4 separate regions of the Homo sapiens genome follow, and regions 2, 3 and 4 are each reported to be linked to region 1. The links are microRNA targets in miRTarBase. Many come from high-throughput screens and were not tested one by one. Region 1 holds a microRNA gene; each other region holds the end of a gene's coding sequence.
Evidence for each region. Region 1 holds the annotated microRNA hsa-miR-4302 (CCAGUGUGGCUCAGCGAG, at 1,668-1,685, shown strand). A microRNA usually pairs through its seed, bases 2 to 8, with sites in the 3' UTR of a target mRNA and lowers its output. Matches are read on the target gene's strand: a 7mer-m8 pairs with bases 2 to 8, a 7mer-A1 pairs with bases 2 to 7 and ends in A, and an 8mer does both.

Region 1 (5,152 bases):
ATCAGTTTCTTTAAGAAGAGGGTACATTTGTGTAGCCTCAGGTGGACCAGAATAAAGGAGGATTGTTAATAAATAAAGTTGTATTTGGAAGACCCTTTACCCTATCAGTTTTGGTACAAGGCTTAGAGAACAACATTGCCTATTGTTTGGTGACTGAGCCTCCGAAGTCACCTCTTGAGTGCTTTCTGTCTTGCTGCTCCTGCTCTTCTTCAGATTCTCTGCAGAAAGTTTCTGAGTCAGTGCAAGTGCCTCTTCAATATGAATCTTAAGTTTATTGCTGAAGTTAATTTCACCTCCATTAGACTGTGCATTTTTCTGGGGAGGGACTGCTTCTGCTGTTTCCTTTACAACTCTCCTAATAGCAAGACATGTGCTTGTGACCTGAACGTGGTGAGCATTACTGTTTGCCATCAAAATGTTAAGGTCACTGCTGTATGGTTATTCATAAGAAGTGAAGAGCTGAAAATAAGGTTGTTTGGAAGCATGAGTTGAAGCCAAATTATGGAAGGCCTTACCTGCCAGGCTGGTTTGGACTCGACGAGTGTTTGTGAGCAGGGTGAGGGGTGTTAGGAGCTGTGCTGGAGGAGGCCAGTCAGGATGGGCAGTGAGCAATTGCTGAAATTTAAACAAAAATCAAAGGCCATACATATAAATGGACTATAAATATCACTGAATGGATATCAGTGAAGGGAAGCACGAATTGATGAAGTCTGAAGGAGGAAGTGAGATTTGAAGAATGAGAAGAAAATAATCCAGCCGAAAGGGAAAGGGAGAACGTTCTAGTTAGCTAGAAACAATAACAGAATTTCAGCATCTGAAATATTTTTGACAAAGGATTCATTTCTTCCCCACCAGACTTATTAATTCTTTCCTTCCTCGTCTCCTTCCCTCGTTCCTTCCTTCTCTCTCTTCCTACTCCTTTTCTTCCTTCTTCTTCAACAAACACTGCCAACAAATCCTAAATTTTATTTTCGCTGGTTACAATCACTTCACATTTTTTTCCTGGTGTCTTCATTTGAAATTGCCTTACTTTTGACTATTCCTCCTGAAAAATACATGATCAGACCTTGAAATGGGTGAGGCAGAGAAGTTTAAGAATTTCTTCCTTGAGATTTTTTTCTCAGATAAATATGCACAGTATGACTGGATTTTTGAAGACAACTTTGTGTTTTGTGATATCCCTGGACTCCCACCCCAGAGGCTGACAATGCTTTTAGGCCCCTCTTTGTAAGATTTATGCCGATGAGTGCCCAAGTTTCTAGAAATGTGACATGGCCAGGTATTGCCAGAGAGAAGCACGTTACCTGCTTCCATGGTTATGGTATTTTCCCTCTTGTCCGACCCTCCTCCCTCCTGTGTGTGTGTGTGAGGCTGGGGATGAAGGGGTAGCAGTTTGGTGAAGGTGGGATCCATAGGGACCAGAGTTGGGAGTCTACTGAGGCATCATTTATCAAAAGTATTAGCATATAAGGCCAGAGGACAGATTCTGTTGTGTGCCGGAGTCTAAATTTAGTCACCAAGGAAAATGCTCCACAAAGAGAAAGAGTTTGCTAAGAACCAAAAAAAGTGGGGATGTTGGCATCAGGAGAGCAGAGCTCTAAGCATGGTGGATACTGATGAGGAATTCTGAAACTGTGATGCAGATCCTGGGGTCACTTCAGGAGGGACCAGTGTGGCTCAGCGAGGTGGCTGAGTTTACTTAAGGTATTGGAATGAGGTAGAATTACTATTTCTATTCCCAAATCACCAAAGTCATGAAGCTTAAAAAAAGCATCTCTTCCAAATACCTCATTTTTCATTTGCAAAAAAAGGGAGAGAAAATACTCCTTGTTTTGTAACTCATTATAACTCATCAACTTCTCTAACTCTTTAATCAGCTTTATTCCAGGAGGAAGAGAATTGATTGAACTGTATGATTTCAAAAACGTGTTATGGGAAAATGAAGATATATAGCTTTATGGTTTATTTTATTTTTTCCACAAATCCAGGTCTCTAAGCTTTATGGTTTAAAGTTCTGTCTCTGGAGTCAGACAAACCTGGATCTGAATCTTTGTCTGATATTTATTAGCTTTGTAAATTTAAATTAAGTGGGCATAACATTTGTAAGCCTCTATTTCATAATCTATAAAAAGAGGATAACAGGCTGGTCATGGTGGCTCATGTCTGTAATCCTAGCAGTCTGGAAGACTGACGTGGTGGATCGCTTAAGTCCAGGAGTTTGAGACCAGCGTGGGCAACATCACAAAACCCTGTCTCTACAAAAAATAGAAAAATTAGACTAGTATGTTGGCACACGCCTGTAGTCCCAGTTACTCAAAAGGCTGAGGTGGGAGGATCACTTGAGCCCAGGAGGCGGAGGTTGCAATGAGCTGAGATTGCACCACTGCACTCCAGCCTGGGTGACAGAGCCAGACCCTATAACAACAGCAACAACAAAAGGAGGATAACAATAGCACTTATCTCTTAGGATTATTGGGATAATTCAATGAGGACTGAACATAAAGTGCTTGGAACCATGCCTGACATACAGTAGATACTCAATAATATTAGCTATTGTTACCATTATGATTATTTTAAATCTAATTTTTTGTCTCTCAGATTATTTGATATCTAATTGCCTCAACTATGTCTTTAAAATAGAGAAATTGGTTGAAGAATCATCTGTGCTCCCAAACTTCTTTTTGTCTTCCAATCTAACATTTGGTACAAATTGTATAAATGAGAACACTTGGAATTCAATATAATAGAACAAAGTATATTTTCTAAGTGGTCTATTGTTGGATCTGGTTCCAGATTCCACTTTATAGAGATAGAAATACTATCCTTAAATGCATATATAGAGTCCAAAATCTTCAAAATCAATATGCTGAAGTCAACCATCCAATAAGTTAGTAACAGTTTTACCTTAGCAGATGCTGTGTGAAAAATGAGAAAGAAATGCAAAATTGAGTACTAGTCTTGGGACTCCTCTTATCAAGTAAAAGAGGTAGAAGATAAAGACAGAGAAGACTAGAAGAAAACTCGCAAATGAATATAGACAGATGAAACAGACTAATTTGCTATTAACCAAAGTAATAAAAGGAAAAGTGCTTTGTTATTTTTGTTTTAAAATTTTTATTTTTGGTTAAAATGTTCCTACTCACTATGGTAATTTTAGATGGAATACAAAAGTGTAAAGAGAAAGAACCATTATAAGTAGTTTGGCATATTTGCTCTCAGAATTACTTCTATGCATATACTTTACACATAGCTGAACATATACAGATAAATAATTTTGCTTTCATCTTTTTTGCTTAGTATTGTCACATAATAATTTACCTCTGTTGTTAAAATTTTTTGTCCTTATTTTGTATTGACACTTTTTTTTTAACAGTTGTGGTAAGATATTACTCACATACAACCAGTTCACCCAGTTACAGTAGACAATTAAGTTATTTTTACTATATTTACAGGGTTGTGTAATCATTACCAAAACCAATTTTAGAACATTTTCATCACTCCAAGAAGAAACCCCTTACCCACTAAAAATCACTCCCCATTCCTCTTATCTCCCCTCAACATTCCCCCCACCCCACCTCAGGCAATCATTAATCTACTTTTGTTTTCTTTTTTTGAGACAGGGTCTCACTCTGTTACCCATGTTGAAGTGTGTGATCTTGGCTCATTGCAACCTCTGCCACCCAGGCTCAAGCAATTCTCCCACCTCAGCCTCCTGAGTAGCTGGGACCACAGATCAGTGCCAGCACACCTGAGTAGCTGGGACCACAGGTCAGGGCCACCACACCTGAGTAGCTGGGACCACAGGTCAGTGCCATCACACCTGGCTAATTATTCGCGTTTTTTGTAGAGATGGGGTTTCGTCATGTTGCCCAGGTTGGTCTCAAACTCCCAAGCTCAGGAGACCCATCCGCCTCGGCCTCCCAAAGTGCTGGAATTACAGGCGTGGGTCACCATGCCTGTCCTAATCTACTTTTTATCTCTATAGATTTGTCTTTTCTGGAGATTTCGTGTTAGGGGAATTATTCGATATGCGATCTTTTCTTTTTTTTTTTTAATTTTATTATTATTATACTTTAAGTTTTAGGGTACATGTGCACAACCTGCAGGTTAGTTACATATGTATACATGTGCCATGTTGGTGTGCTGCACGCATTAACTCGTCATTTAACATTAGGTATATCTCCTGATGCTATCCCTCCCCCCTCCCCCCACCCCGCAACAGGCCCGGGTGTGTGATGTTCCCCTTCCTGTGTCCATGTGTTCTCGTTGTTCAATTCCCACCTATGAGTGAGAACATGCGGTGTTTGGTTTTTTGTCCTTGCGATAGCTTGCTGAGAATGATGGTTTCCAGCTTCATCCATGTCCCTACAAAGGACATGAACTCATCATTTTTTATGGCTGGATATGCGATCTTTTCTGACTGGCTTCTTTCACTCAGCATCATATTTTTCAAGACTTGTCCATGTGTAGCATGTATCAGCTCTTCAAGTTCCTTTGTGTTTTCGTATAATATTTCACTGTTTGGATATACTGCATTTTATTTACCATTCATCAATCGATGGACATTTGGGTTGTTTCTGCCTTTTTTTTTTTTTTTTTTTTTGAGACAGAGTCTCACTCTGTCGCCCAGGCTGCAGCGCAATGGCGCGATCTCGGCTCACTGCAGCCTCTCCCCTCCCACCCACCAAGGTTCAAGTGATTCTGCTGCCTCAGCCTCCAGAGTAGCTGGGATTACAGGCGCCTGCCACCACACCTGGCTTATTTATTTGTTTGTTTGTTTGTTTGTTTGTTTGAGACGGAGTTTAGCTCTAGTTGCCCAGGCTGGAGTGCAATGGCACAATCTTGGCTCACTGCAACCTCCTGCCTCCCCGGTTCAAGCGATTCTCCCGCCTCAGCCTCCCGAGTAGCTGGAATTACAGGCATGCACCACCATACCCGGCTAATTTTGTTTTGAAATTGGGTTATTTGGCCGGGCACAGTCAAATACCACGCCTGTAATACCAGCACTTTGGGAGGCCGAGGCAGGCGGATCACCTGAGGTCAGGAGTTTGAAACCAGCCTGGCTAACGTGGCGAAACCTCGTCAGTACTAAAAATATAAAAATTAGCTGGGCGTGGTGGTGGGCGCCTGTAATCCCAGCTACTCGGGAGGC
Region 2 (5,152 bases), not on the chromosome of region 1:
TGGGTGGCCCACTGGCTCCTGCCGGCCAGAGCGCATGAGCACTGACCTTCCTCGTGGGGAAGGTCTGCAGACCCGTGTGAACATGGCAGAGGCCACACTCCAGCTCCCACCCACATAAACCTTTGCAACCACTTCACTACCTCTCACTGGGTCTCGTGGGCTTGGGACAGCAACGGTTCTGTTTAGTCAGCTGGTGCAGGTGGTTGGCCCAGCCGATGAGAACTCAAATAGCACGGATTTCCTGGATGAGCTACCACGTGGCGCTCTTCAGGTTCTGCCTCTGGGAGGCTGTGTGCACCTCAGTCACCACAGCTCACGGCCGTCCCCAGTTGAGTCCCCCTTCTGAGGACAAGTTTGAAACTGGGAAGGAGACACCCCCTGGTTCCGCCAGCACCTATCCCACTGATAGTGATCCCCTGGCCTCCCCGAGCCTCCTTAGGCAATGGCCACTGGTTTGTAGACAGAGAGTTTCTTGCAGCCTTGAAAATTTTATTCCCTAAGTGGGGACAGCTCTGGTATTACTGCTTCTTTAATTTGTTCCACAAAAATTATGCTGAAATGGACCTGAATCAGCCCTGGGTGTGCTTCTGTTGGCGCCTGCTGCTGAGGCCCGGCCTGCCCATCGGCCTGTAGTACGCCATCGAGGTCATCATGGAGCCAGCCAGCTTCTCTTCTCATCAAGGAGGCAGAGACCCCTGGTGGAAGCCAAGAGTGACCGAAGAGGGCTTGCATCACGTCACTCCAGTGGTTCCCTCCTTGTCCAAGTCCTCGTTTTAAGGGCATGGCCCGTTGGCTCCAGCCGTTGGCTTCTGTTCAGGGTCCTTGCTCCCATCAGAGGTGTTTGATTTTGCTCCTGGGGCTGCGATGGAGAACCTTTTGTGGCAGATGGTGCTGCCTACATCTCATTGGTTCTCTGTACCTGTGCCCGTTGCGCATGTTCACAGACAGGAGAGTCGCCAGCAATACCTTGGCAGCCTTTAAATGTGAAACGTCTGTTACTTGCGCTGGAGGCAGAGGCTGTGCAGGGAGCCTGCTTCTAATCGTGGGCTCCCTTATCTGTTACGGTTCCCTCCCCTCCTGTTCTAGATGCTGATTCGTTTTCTCACTGGCTGGTTAATTGCTGTCTACTTAGGCCTCCAAGGCCATAACTGTGCAACATTTTATCTGAGAAGGAAGGAAGGTCAGAAAGTGATCACTGGCACCACCACTGTGGCATTCCTGTCACACCAACACAGAAATTCACAGCTCATACTGTTCTCACCTGGGAAACTTGGGAAGGGCTGATGAGTTTGGGGCAGATCCTGAATTGCAGCCACACTTGGCCTTCTAGAAGCTGAAGTTGTGCCCTCAAGTGGTCCTAAGTAGAAGTCCACTTGAGGTATTTGCTGGCACACACCCTCAAGGGTGGTTCAGAAGGTCCTGAAACCTAAGGCAAAAGGCTGCTGGGGCATGAACAGAACAGACCGTCTCAGGGGCAGCCATGTAAGTGGCAAGCAGGGCTGGTCTCCCTCAAGGTGGTTCTTCATTAAGTAAAGATGGCTTCGTGACTAGTGTTTAGCTCCCAGATTTATATTTGGGTTAAAAACTAACTTTTCAATGTGGCAGTTTCAAAGGATTACTTGATGCAAAGTATGTTTCCTTTCAAAGGGATCTTGACGTGGTACCAGGACTGAGTCATGATTTGGGCAGAGGCAGTTAACACTGGGAAGCCCTGCCCCTCCCTATGCCCCCTTCACTCCGGGGAACTGAAACCTACTCTGAGTCTCACATCTCTAAACCTCAGTGCTGAGACCTATGCAGTGGGACTAATCTCATCAAGAATTTTCAGTTGAGGCCGGGCGCAGTGGCTCACGCCTGTAATCCCAACACTTTGGGAGGCCGAGGTGGGCGGATCACCTGAGGTCAGGAGTTGGAGACCAGCCTGGCCAACATGGTGAAACCCCATCTCTACTAAAAATACAAAGAAAGTTAGCCAGGTCTGGTGGTGCGTGCCTGTAATCCCACTTACTCGGGAGGCTGAGGCAGGAGAATCACTTGAACCCAGGAGGCAGAGGTTACAGTGAGCCGAGATCGCGCCACTGCACTCCACCCTGGGCAACAAGAGCGAAAACTGTCTCAAAAAAAAAAAATTTTTCATTTGAGGTATTCTTCCAGTAGAAGGTTAGTAAGTTTTTAATGAAACCATTAAAAATTACACTTCCCAGAAAATAGATGACATCAGTGCCCCTTGCTACTTTCTCAGTCCTCACTATTGCTTTGAGGGCCCAGGTACTGAAACTGGTTGTCTTGAGTTTTGTGTCAGCTTTTTCTCCAGTCCATTATCCCCCTCCCTTGCTTCTGAAGCAGTCTAGGTTAAACTAGCCAGGCAGGTAGTTGTGGACTGGTGATTTTCAAAAGCCCCACTTTAGAGATCAGGCCACAGCTTTTTATATCGCACAGGACACATCAGCCTGAGCTGCTGCCTCATGCCTGTTTCCCCAGGAACCTCACTCCTTTGGTAGAACCTTGGGATTTTAGAAATTGTGGCTTTTCCATAACTCATTTACTCCAACAGTTGAAGTTACACACATTGCTCCCAAATTTGGAAATAGACCACAGTACCTTACCTTTCATTCCCCATCTGGCCTTTACCTTCTTTGCTTCAGTGGTTGAAAACAGTTGCCATATTCAAAGTATAGTAGATTTCAACCTCACACAAATGACAAGTCCCATTTTACAATCCTAGGAAGGCCCACCAATTTCATTTCACGCGCCAGGGCGGCTGCAGTTGGAGGCCGAGGGCAGCCCTCTGCTCACTGAATGTCTTGCATGTGCTGACTGCTGCCCGCAGTGCTGAACATGCCCCACCGCCCAGGCCCAGCACTGCTTGTTGGGTCAGCATCTAGTGCTGCTGTCACATCTTTGTCTGCACAGCCAGTAGGATTGCCTCAGCCAGGGGGTTTATCAGAAGGTGTGCAAGGCCTTTGGGGGAACTGAGCCCCTATAGTGGGCAGTCTCCTTTACCTTCCCACCTCCCTGAAAAGCACAGAAGACAGTGCCTTGGTTTGTGTTTTGAAGCAAACAAGTCAGCTTTCTGGCTTTGCCCCAAAACTGTGATGGAACATAATAAAACTGGAGATATGGTTTTTAACACTGCAAAAAGGAAAAAGCATCAAGTTTCTACTTCTGGCTGGAAAGCAAAACCAATCTCAGCTGACAAGGCTGGGCAAACTAAGTTTTCCTGAGCCCATTTTCCTTTGAGCCCTGACCTAGCCTGGCCTTACCTCATTAAGGTTTGGTTAAAGCAGTGGAAAGGAGGAGGAGGCAGGGGTGGATGGGGGTGTGGGGAGGGGATGAGCACTCTGCAGCCGATTAATCTGTTGGTAGGGGCCCAGCTTCTTGGGAGTGCTTATTCAGCCCAAGAGTGGAGGCTGTTTACAGCGAGCCCTGGAGATGGCAGCTTGTCTCCAGCTGGGGAGGGGTCAGGCCCCTAAATTGAAGACCACTTTGGTAGCAGAACTGTAGGGACTGGTGAGTCAACTCACAGATTCTGCAGCAGCTGCTCCACCCACAATAAAGCAAACGCCGACAGGCTAGACCCCAGATTGCAGGGGCTGCCACCTACAAGGTGGGACCACAGGCTGCCTCACCGGGATTGTCTGCCACTAAATAGCTGGAGTCACAGATTGAGATAAATGCCACCTTCAAGGTTGCAGTGAAAAGCATAATCCTATGTGATGAATTTATATGTGTTATTTTTTAAAAAGCTATTTTATTACTGCATGTTCCCGTCCCGTCTTGTGAATGTGAGTCCCCGCCACCACGTGAGGTGCAGTCGTTGCAGCGGCTGGTGCAGGAGTGCAGCTGGCGCGTGTGTGATAGCATCTCGTAGGTGTTGCTGCACAAGAGTTAACCAGAGTCAATGCCAAACACATAGTATGAGAAGTGTACTTTTTAAGAAATTAATTTATTTGAGTTCAAATATTTTTGAAATATAAAAATTGGTTGTATTTTTTAAAGCTATAATTCTTGTAGACATTCTGTGGTTAAAAATTTGATTGTGCTTATTAAAAATGGTCATCTATGTTTTGCACTTCAGCTACGTGAAAATAAAATTTCTTTGGGAAGGTGACATTTGGCTTCCTGATTACGGGAGGGAGTTGGTTATCTCAGGTGGAGCAGGAAAGCCTGGTTGATTCTCACACCAGGATGGGACTGGGACTTCCCAGGATGGAGGGAGGAGGCCATTTCTACACCATACTTTGAGCTACTGACAGCAAAACCCTCCCACCATACTGGGTGCATCTTGTTTACTCTTGACTAACATACACTTCTGATTTACAGCAGAAGCCTCAGAAGCTAATTCAGTTCTCCTTTGGCATGCCACTGGATAACAAGATAGTGAGGGGGCAGTGTGTACAAGCTGTGGACATGGGCATTTCCTCTCTGTTGCAGCAAGGCGGAGGAAAGCCCAGGGAGAGTAAAACGCTACAATCTTTCTAACAGCTTTGCCCTACACCACCATCTAAATGATTATGACCAAGTGGCGACATAGTATTTTATTTTCCTAGAATTATGTCCAGCTGTGAGAAAGCCAGGTTCAAATTTAAATCCTTTAATAACCTGTCCCAGAATTACTAACAATGAGACTTAAACAAATTTTGATTTGTGAAGAAAACATGAAAAAAGTCCAAAAGAAACCCCCTCAAAGGGCCCGAGTGTCAACAGTTCCCCTTTGGAGCAGCTCATCCATCTCTCAGGTGGGGGTCCTCCGGCAGGCAGCTTCCTCTGTGGCGCCAGGTGGGTCCAGAGTGGGCCCGCTCCTTTAGAAGTCAGGCAGGCCAGGCAGAGGGAAGAGAGAGGCGAAGCTCTCAACCTCCTCCCGGAGAGCCTGCACGGCCGCCTGGTACTTATCCCCTGCCAGTCTCTCCTTGAACTCTTTCAGGGTGGCTCTGACACCAGTGTCGCTCTGGATCTGCAGGGTCAGCTCTATCCCTGTGCCACAAGACACAAATGAGTCACCCCACACTACACACCAAAGGGGGTACAATGGCTGGGGGCCGAGGCACAAATGTCAGAATGTCCCCCAGCTGGGGAGTGTGGCAGGGCACAAGGTCTCCATGCTTACCTCAATTACTCTGAGATGCACCCACCCTTGGACAGATGTCCTGGG
Region 3 (5,152 bases), not on the chromosome of region 1:
GGCATAGGTGAGTATCTGAGGTAGGAAATGAACCACCATCCTTTCCACCCTATTTTCATATTATTTCATCTCTGATAGGGCGTTTGTAATTCTTCAGCCTTTAGGTTATTGTGTTCTTCAACATTCAATAAACTGGCCTAGAGGATTGCCATAAAAAGTACAGATTATCAAAGAAATACCATCAGAAAGAGAACACTGAAGCATATCTTCTAGTGTTAGTGTGAGGGGATCTAGGTTGTTTAGTGTTCAGATACGGGGAAGATAAGAAAATAGGCTGGGCACCATGGTTCATGCCTGCAATCTCAGCACTTTGGGAGGCTGAGGTGGATGGATCACTTGAGCCCAGGAGTTTGAGATCAACCTGGACAACATACTGAGACCTCATCTCTACAAAAAAAAATTTTTTAAGCCGGGCATAGTGGCACATGCCTGTGGTCTCAGCTACTTGGAAGGCTGAGGGGAAGCCTGGGAGGTCAAGGCTGCAGTGAGCCATGATTGTGCCACCGCAATCCAGCCTGAGTAACAATGAGACTCCTAAAAACAAAAAAAGAAAAGAAAAGAAAGCAATGACCTTTTTTTTTTTTTTTAATCATTAAGCACTGAACAAAGCCACTATGCTAAAACTTTCCTGTTTTACTAATAGGAACAACATGCCAGAATTTCACAAATTAAAAGCAAAGTTGATAAAGAAGAAAGGAACACGGGCATATGCCTGCCAGTGTAGCTGGAGAACTATTGAAGAAGTGACTGACCTTCAGACAGATCATCAGCTTCGCTGGGTTTGTGGTAAACATTAAGAATGCAGACTGCACATTCGGACAGATGCATCCATGAGAGTGGTCTCCATGAATCATCATCATGTTTAGACAATAGTCCCTAGCAATACCATTCCCTGTGGGAAAAGGCAGTGAATTTTATTGATACAACTACATACATTTTTGAAGACCAAATGGACTAAGGAAGATCATGTATTATAACACTTTGGAATTATTCCTGATACATGGATGTTTCACTTAGTAACAGGCATCTACATTCTTTACTAATCTGTCTTCTGTTTAATAGAGGTTTGATTATGGAGTTCCATACAAATATCTAGTTTTTCATTAGCAACTGCAATATTGATTGCTAATACGTTTAGCAAATCATTCCCCAACTTGTAGCAGTTAAAGTGGATAAAGCCGGCCAGGGCAAAGAGATCATTTAGGGGTGTCTACAACACTTCTTCCAGTCAGATCTTTTGTTGCCAAAGATCATAATTTGGACATGGCAGAAACCAGGTGATCAGTGGCTGACTGAAGGGTGTTCAGAAGTAGTTACAGGTATTTTGCAAAAACACTGCCTCATAGCTGATCTTACCTCATCAACTCAAAGCAATGTTATGCACAATATTAAATACATGTTACCAGTTTTAGCTTATTTTTCCCTCTTTTGTTCATTTAACTATCAAAAGTTATTTTCTATTTTGATTACCCAATAATATATAAAAAGAGTTTGATGCACCCAAAATCACAAAAATCCTAATACATACAGGTTATTGTTGGATTTTCCAAGTACTTTCTATCCTTTAATGCCTAAAACTCCATCAAGGGAAGTAAACAGCAAGTAATATAATTTTTCAGGCAGCCTGTGGACTTCTCTGGTAGGATCAGGTTGACATATCGTTTATTAGGTGAGTAAGTGAAAAGACAAGTAAAGCATAACTGAACCAACAGGTAACCTGTTGGGCTCCTTCCTGACATCACTGAGATCTGAGGAGCCCTACAATAGCAGCACATTCAGGAAATCAGGTCCCTCAAAATTTCTAGCTCCCAACCCCATTGAGAGATTTTGGGAGCTTTCCAATCTGCCACAAACTCCCTGCTACATATGTACTATATAGTTCAAATGTGTGATACAGAGCACCCTGAAAGGGAATAATTGAAACAAAGTTATAATCTTCTTAGTCTTATGCTAAATTTATTCCAGCCACCCTACTGAAGGGAGGAAGATCTGATCATTAGAATCCTTTTCCTAGCCATGACACATTTACATACTTGTAAAATTTATTGTAGTAAGTCTAGCATTGCAACAGAATAGATCTTATAATGGCCAATCCTCACACTTTTGTATTAAGGATATTATGACAGACTAAGCATGGTAGCTCACGCCTGTAATCCCAGCACTTTGGGAGGCTGAGGCAGGCAGATCAGCTGAGGTCAGGAGTTCAAGACCAGCCTGGCCAACATGATAAAACACCATCTCTACTAAAAATACAAAAATTAGCTGGGCGCGGTGGTGCATGCCTGTAATCCCAACTACTCGGGAGGCCGAGGCAGGAAAATTTATTGAACCTGGGAGGCAGAGGTTGTAGTGAGCCAAGGTCGCGCCACTGCGCTCCAGCCTGGACAACACAGTGAGACTCTGTCTCAAAAAAAAAAAAAAGACATTATGACAGATTTTATCTTTTAATAAAAATGTATTATATCCCTAAAGTTATATCTATATGTAATTGAGTCAGAAACCTAGGGGGATGTCGATTGAAGTCGACTGCTGGAAAAAAATAGCAGAGCAACAAGATCCACACATTTAGAACCTCATAGAATTTGACACATTATTCATAATGGTGCAATTCTTTCTTTTTTATTCCAGTAAGCAAATTTACTAAATCACTAATTTGAAAAAAAAAATTTTTTTTTTGAGATGGAGTGTCACTCTGTTGCCGGGCTGGAGTGCAGTGGCACGATCTCTGCTCACTGCAACCTCCGCCTCGCAGCTTCAAGTGATTGTCCTGCCTCAGCCTCCCCAGTAGCTGGGATTACAGGCACACACCACCACGCCCAGCTAATTTTTGTATTTTTAATAGAGACAGGGTTTCACCATGTTGGCCAGAATGATGTCGATCTCCTGAACTCGTGATCCGCCCGCCTCAGCCTCCCAAAGTAGCCTACATTGCCTCTACTTTGAAGGGACAAAGTTGTCCTGGTTTTTTTTTCCCTTTTATTATTTCATTATAACTATCCTAAAACTTACATACATTGCCTATGTTTGGCATTCCATAACATAATAATTATAATAATCCCCCAATGTCAGAAATGTATGTGTGAGTTCCCATGTTTATTGGCAATTTATAAGCTTTTTAATATTGTACTATTTTAAACTAAAATGTAGAAAGAATATTATGTTTATATACAGTCAGATAAATTATTAACTGTTGTAATTTAAGCTGAAAATGAAACTATTTTAGTATCAGTATAGAAGAAAAGTATAGTTTCTAATCATCTATAATTTTAAAATGCAAAGCCTATAAAACTTTCAAGATGTTTTGCCTGTTTGTTTTTAAGATTTATAATAATTTTCTATCTTTAGCAAGTAGCTATTTTTAAGCCAGGTAACTTCTTTATTTGAACTGTATTATACTCTCAGACCCTCATCCTGCCTAGAAATGAATAAGTAATAAATAATTACTCTGTATTATTTACTTCTTTTATTTTATAGTAAAATATTCATTTGGATGGACATTAATTTGAAATCATTTTGATGTTTTTTTTTTTTGAGACAGAGTCTCTCTCTGTTGCCCAGACTAGAGTGCAGTGGTGCAATCATAGCTCACTGCTTCCTTGAACTCCTGAGCTAAAGCGATCCTCCCACCTCAGCCTCCCAAAGTGCTGGGATTACAGGTGTGAAGCACCATGCCCAGTCAAAAAAAATTTTTTTAATGTCAACAGAAAAGTTTCCAAGCATCCAGTTAAACAGATAATTTGTCTACACTGGGGAGGAGAAGTATGCCATAACTCTGATGTGTGTGTGTGTGTGTGTGTGTGTGTGTGTGTGTGTGTGTACATGCATGTGTAAAGAGAGTATGTGTGTGCATGCATGTGTAAAGTACCATGGGTATTCAAAGGAACAGGTCCAAGTTTAGGAAGAACAGGCCATGCTGACTTGGCGGTGTATACCTAGAACCTGTTCGTTGATGTCAGTAAACTTAGTACCTTTTTTTCTTAGGCCAGAGAATATGTCATCAGACTATGAATCTGAATTGCTTTCTCTCTTTTTCTTACTGATATTTAAGAATATGAAAGAAAAAGGTCTTTGTATCCAAAAGCATTGTGATGAAGCTTAGCCATGAATTTCAAATGCTGATATTTCTAATGTTTTAACAAAATCTCTATCAGCCAACCTAATGCTCCCAGTAATCAGCAATATCTCTTGTATAAAATAGTTCCTGAAAGAAAAAATTTAAAATACGCAATCTCTTTAGAGATTTCATATCTTATTGTATTTCATTGGGTTTGTGACATCATTTTGTGCCCTATTTTAAGAATGCACTAGAAAAACCAAAAAAGAAAAAAGATTGCATTAGATATGTATATATACAAGTACATGATAATTAAATTTGACTTTCCCCAAATGCCTTGAGATAAGGGATGACCAAATGAAGTTTAACAAAGTCAGAGTTCAGAGTCGTGTCCCTTAGAAAGTCACATGACATTTTGGGCTTCGTTCGCCTTAACTGTATGAATTATAATACCACTTTTGTAAGTTTGTTGTAAGGATTAAATCATATAACACATGAAAAGTGACTAGCATAGTGTTTGGTTCAGAATAGGTGCTTAATAAATGTTCTCATTCTTTTGTTATTATTATACTTTAAGTACTGGGATACATGTGCAGAACGTGCAGGTTACGTGCAGGTTTGTTAAATAATTATACACGTGCCAGGGTGGTTTGCTGCACCCATCAACCTGTCATCTATGTTAGGTATTTCTCCTAATGCTATCCCTCCCCTAGCCCCCTAGCCCCCAACCAGCCTCTGGTGTGTAATGTTCCCCTCCCTGTGTCCATGTGTTCTCATTGTTCAACTCCCACTTATGAGTGAGAACATGCAGTGTTTGGTTTTCTGTTCTTGTGTTAGTTTGCTGAGATGGTTTCCAGCTTCATCCATGTCCCTGCAAAGGACATGAACTCATCCTTTTTTATGGCTGCATAGTATTCCATGGTGTATATGTGCCACATTTTCTTTATCCAGTCTATCATTAATGGGCATTTGGGTTGGTTCCCAGTCTTTGTTATTGTGAATAGTACTGCAGTAAACATACGTGTGCATGTGTCTTTATAGTAGAATGATTTATAATCCTTTGGGTATATACCCAGTAATGGGATTGAACTTCTGGTT
Region 4 (5,152 bases), not on the chromosome of region 1:
CAAGTGATCTCCTCTTCTTTGGGCTAAATGGGTCCCGGTATTTAATTCTTGGAGCACAGCCTCAGAGCACTGAGAGGTGGCTTAGAATAAATTAGTGTCACACGTGGAGAAATATGTCATTGGTGGCTTCTCTCCCAGGTGGGCCAAGGAATGCTGGATATGTGCTAGGCTTTAAACCTAATCCAAATCGAGGTGTGGGTCCATAGGCAACAATAGTTCCTGTTCTGCACCCCCTCAGTAGCCTGTGAGGACTGGACTAGTTTTGTATTTTCTGAAACTTTAGAGAACATCTCTCTATCTTCCTGTTCTAGGATTGATACTGCCAAATGGAAACATTAACTGGAACTGCCCATGCCTTGGGGGAATGGCCAGCGGTCCCTGTGGAGAACAGTTTAAGTCAGCCTTTTCCTGCTTCCACTATAGCACGGAGGAGATCAAGGGGTCAGACTGTGTAGACCAGTTCCGGGCCATGCAGGAATGCATGCAGAAATACCCAGACCTCTATCCCCAAGAGGATGAGGATGAGGAAGAGGAAAGAGAGAAGAAGCCAGCAGAACAAGCAGAAGAAACAGCTCCCATTGAGGCCACTGCAACCAAAGAAGAGGAGGGATCAAGTTAATGAAGGCCACAAGGCACTGGGCACCAGTCCTTTTGGAGTGGACCTTTTGCAAAAGGCCTTGTCATCACCTTCCAAGAAAGTTTCCTTCTGTTGTCCTGTGCATTATAATATACAAAATAACTTATTTTGATGATCAGAGGTCTTGAGGTCTTGACATCTTGACATATACACTGAAAAAAATGGGGGTTGTATGTATGTGTGTCCTACCCAAACCTGTGGCCGCCACTTTTGAATTCTCAGATTGCCCTGAATTTTGCCACTTTTAAATAATGTGCTGAATAAGCTCAGCAACTAAAAACCATTACCCAAGAACGTTTCTTGTGAGTGAGCTGATTTATTCTGATTCATTATATTCCTTTTGGTAGATTTTATACCCCTTGGGGAAATAATACAACAAAAACATCTCTTAAAAATGCTGGGATGGGGCCATATCTACTAGCAGAGGCCAGATGGTCAGATATGATTTCTGCAAACCCATCTTGACCTTGAGTATGTGAAGGGGTACTGTACTTTATTCCTGATACATTTTGGTTTCCATGTAGGTGTTGAGCTCCTGGTTTTCTGTGTTTGGATGATGAAGATTTGGACCCTTCCATTCATAATCCCTTTCTAAGTGAAGGGAGAGGCTGGCTTGGCTGTTCCTTGTTATTCCGAAAGCCCTGGTTTGGGGCCCATGTTCACACTGGCTCTCAGTCTAGTCAGGTGCAATGTTCTTGAGAGGTGGGGACCTAATTATTACCAGAGTAGCAGCAAGAGAGGAAACGTTGTGAATTAAGTATTCAATTAAAAGGAAACATGATTTCTACCTGATTTTGAATGTGTCCTTTGTTTTCACTAGTTAAAAATGTTTTCTATATAAAAAAGTATAAATTATGAACAATTCAATTGAAATTCCTCTTGAAAGATATTGGTAAACCAATTTGAGTCCGTTAAAATTTTCTGTGTTGAGTTCAAAGGAAGCTTACTTATTTTATATGTGAGCAGATGCCTTCACACAGACATTACAGTTAGTCTATGAGGTGGGGAAGGCTCTTCCTGTTTGAAAATAGATTAACTTGCCTAAGGTAACTGCTAGACAGTTTTCAGGCTGTGGCATAGTAATGCCTCATTTGTCTCAAATGTGTTAAGTTATTTATGTAAAAAATTGCCTTAAAACTTAATAGCTTGAAACGAGGAATCTGGGCATGGCTTACCTGGGTTCTCTGGCTCAGTGTCTCATGAGGCTATGATACTTGTAGTCATCTCAAGGTGGGACAGGCCTTTCAAGATCGCTCGAAGTGGTTTCTGGGAGGGTTCAGTGGGTTGAATCTTGTGGGCTGTGGATTGAGGGCCTCAGTGCCTTACTGGCTGTTGGCCAGACACCTCCTTCAGTTCCTTGCCACATGGCCTTTGCCTTAAAGGGTCAGCTCACAACATGGGAGGTGGCTTCCATCAGAGCAAGCGAGAGAGCAAGATGGATGCCAGAGCCTTTTCATCACCTAATCTCAAAACGGACATTCCATAACTTTACCATAGTCTATTTGTTTGTTAGAAGTGAGACACAGCCCACACTCAAGGAGAGGGACACAAGAATACGAGTAACAGGAAGCTGCCTGCCACACTGGAGAATGAGGCGCCACCATGTTAAAGCTTGAAGGCATGGTTAAAATGCAAGGATTTGTGGTTGGGAGGTGTATGGAGGTAGAGAACTGCTTTCTATATCCAGAGCTTTTTTAAACCTTGCTTGATTAGGAGCTAAGAACCTGGAGCTGGCCAAGCATGGAAGGCATGACAGACCCTAACGACTTCTTTTAACAGAGTTTTGCACATTTAAAAACGATATTTCTTTTGTTAAAATTTTGGTCACAATCAAGGTGTTACTGTTTTGTGACCATGTCATGTACCCCATTTATTTGATGCATTCATGGAATCTACAGTTCCAAGCCCTAGGGACATAGAGTGATTCATTCATGGTACTGCCCATGAAGCTACAATCTAGCCAGGAAGTCAACATTTACTAGAAAGCAGAAAGGAATGGATGAGTGTTACATAATGGTGCTGGATTTTCAGGGCTGGGTTCTTCCAGCCATGGTAACTTACAGCAGAGATTCTCGAACTGTCTGCCCAACTCGACTTGGGTTAGGCAAAAGGTTCCATCCTTTTCCACTTATCACTGGAAAAACAAATTGGTGATAAGGAATTGGCACCGTATAAGCAATTGGAAGTGGGTGGAGATTATGCTTTACTACAAGGGGTTTGGATAATTCATATTTAAGTTGCTGTGTATCTTTAAATGTAAGAACACCAATAGATCAAAGAGTTAATGATTCAGATAAATGCAAGTTGATGATTTTTAAAGAACAGCAATAATTGAAACAAAGGGCTGCTCAAAATAACACTGATTTGGAAATGCAATTACCAACACAATGTTTTATGTCTGTTTTGTTTTGTTGTGTTGTGTTTTAAGAGAGTTTCGCTGTGTTGTCCAGGCTGGAGTGCAGTGGCATAATCATGGCTCACTGCAGGCTCAACCTCCTGGGCTCAAGCGATCCTCCTGCCTTAGCCTACCAAAGCGCTGGAATGCTCAGCCTGTTTTGTATTTTTGTGTTATAGGCAAGTGCAGCATATCAGCCAAGCTTCTTAATAGAACACTACATTCTAGTCCTTAGTTCTAGGACTGTACAGATTTTAACATGTATTTATTTTAGAAACAGGGTCTCGCTCTGTTGCCTAGGCTGGAGTGCAGTGGCACAATCATAGCTCACTGCAGCCCTGGACTCCTGGGCTCAAACGATTCTCCCACCTCAGCCTCCCAAGTAGCTGAGACTATAGGCGTGCTCCACCATGACTGGCTAAGTTTTTATTTTTGTAGAGATGGGGTCTCACTATGTTGCCCAGGCTAGTCTCAAACTTCCGGCCTCAAGCAATTCTCCTGCCTCAGCCTCCCAAAACACTGGGATTACAGGTGTAAGCCATCATGCCCAGCAGAGACTCATTTTCACATAACGGCTGCTTTCTTGTAGTTTTGAGACATTATGGGTTACTAAAATATTATGAAGTTAAAATCTGAAGTCTGATATAAAATGGCATAGTAATTGCACATGAACAGGCTGGCTACAGCTAAAAGCAGCTCTTAGATTTTCATAGTGGAGCCAGAAAAGCAGAAATTTCATTCCTTGCCTTTTTCATGAAATAACTAGCCCAAGGTTATATTGTTAATGGATATATCTCAGGAAAATGCGAGCATTGAACACTTAATATATCGAATACTATTAAATTTTCAGTTATGGTAATGCCACTGTGATTATGTTTAAAAAGGAAAATCCCTACATTTGATAGAAATATATTGACTTTTGTTGATGAAGTTATATTACTAATGGGATTTGTTTCAACATAAGATGGAGAAGTCGTAGGTGTAGAAAAAAGAAGATTGGCCATAAGTTCATGACTTTTGAAGCAGGGTAATGAATGCAAAGCTAATATTATACTATCCTTTCTGTTTTTGTGTGTATTTCAAGTTTTTCTATAATAAAAAGTTTAAACCTTGGAAAAAGATACCATAAACAGGGTAAAAAACAGTTGCAAACCCAGAGAAGGTATTTGTAGCACATATGATTGGCAAAAGATTAATATATAGAATATCTAATGGACTCCTAATAATAAAACTACACATAAGCCAATAGGAAAATGGGCAAAAGACATGAACAGACTATTCACAGAAAATGAAACAAGAATGTCTAACGTTCATTTGGAAATATATTTATCCTCATTATTCATCAAGGAAATACAAAATAGAAAATAAAACAAGTTACAATTTCAAACTTACCAAATTGAGGAAAATGAAAAACGTTGATCACAGTGTTGGCTAAGAGGAAAACTCTTACACATTGCTGGTATGGGAGGTAAATTTATAAAACTATTTGGAAAACAATTTAGCATAAATGAATGTAAATAAACACAGGCATAATTTAGAAACAAGCAAATTCTGTGGTATGGACCATAGAGAAAATATGGCACATATGACCAGGAAATATCTTTTTTTTAAAAAAAAAAAGTCCCCAAAACATTTATTCACCAAACTTCCTAACTCAATTTTAAGCAAAATGTAACAATGAATTAATAATCTGTGCAAGTGCTGACAGGCATGCAGACTGGTGTGACCTCTATGGAAGGGATTTTGAGACTATCTAACAACAACTACAGATGCGCATTTACCTTTTGAGTAGGTAAGCCCACTGCTCGGAATTTACCCTGAATCCACATCTCCACAAATAAAAAACAAGATATGCACAAGGTTATTCATTGCAGCATTAGATGTAATAATACAAGACTGCAAACATCCTAAATGCCTATCTACAGGAGACTGGTTGAATAACCACGGTACATTACACAATTGAGTACTATGTAGCCATAAACAAGAATAAACATCTCCATGAACTAATATAAACCAACTTGCAGGCAATGTTAAGTGAAAAAGTAGATATGGTATGTCCACTCAACAGGCCTACAAGTTACAGCACTCAGTAAAATTAAGTATGCCTATAGTCCAGATCT

Region 2: the mRNA of SHMT1 is a reported target of hsa-miR-4302. Seed matches in the 3' UTR shown: 7mer-m8 at 4,390-4,396.
Region 3: the mRNA of CFAP418 is a reported target of hsa-miR-4302. The part of its 3' UTR that is shown has no 7-base or 8-base seed match.
Region 4: the mRNA of CHCHD4 is a reported target of hsa-miR-4302. Seed matches in the 3' UTR shown: 7mer-A1 at 787-793 and 7mer-m8 at 1,298-1,304.

What each region holds. Positions count from the first base shown.
Region 1 is chr12:25,870,585-25,875,736 of GRCh38, reverse strand. It overlaps MIR4302 (microRNA 4302), which reads left to right and starts at 1,658; the gene lies at 1,658-1,717.
Region 2 is chr17:18,323,946-18,329,097 of GRCh38, forward strand. It overlaps SHMT1 (serine hydroxymethyltransferase 1), which reads right to left. Exons shown (of 12, transcript NM_004169.5): 12 at 3,928-4,974. The coding sequence ends at 4,805. It overlaps SMCR8 (SMCR8-C9orf72 complex subunit), which reads left to right. Exons shown (of 2, transcript NM_144775.3): 2 at 1-4,111. Among named protein-coding and RNA genes, the nearest start is that of SMCR8, 11 kb to the left of the region's middle. RefSeq lists a silencer at 1,779-1,888.
Region 3 is chr8:95,243,262-95,248,413 of GRCh38, reverse strand. CFAP418 (cilia and flagella associated protein 418) reads left to right here. Exons shown (of 6, transcript NM_177965.4): 6 at 644-3,501. The coding sequence ends at 797. Among named protein-coding and RNA genes, the nearest start is that of CFAP418-AS1, 23 kb to the left of the region's middle.
Region 4 is chr3:14,108,354-14,113,505 of GRCh38, reverse strand. CHCHD4 (coiled-coil-helix-coiled-coil-helix domain containing 4) reads left to right here. Exons shown (of 3, transcript NM_001098502.2): 3 at 312-1,429. The coding sequence ends at 619. Among named protein-coding and RNA genes, the nearest start is that of CHCHD4, 14 kb to the left of the region's middle.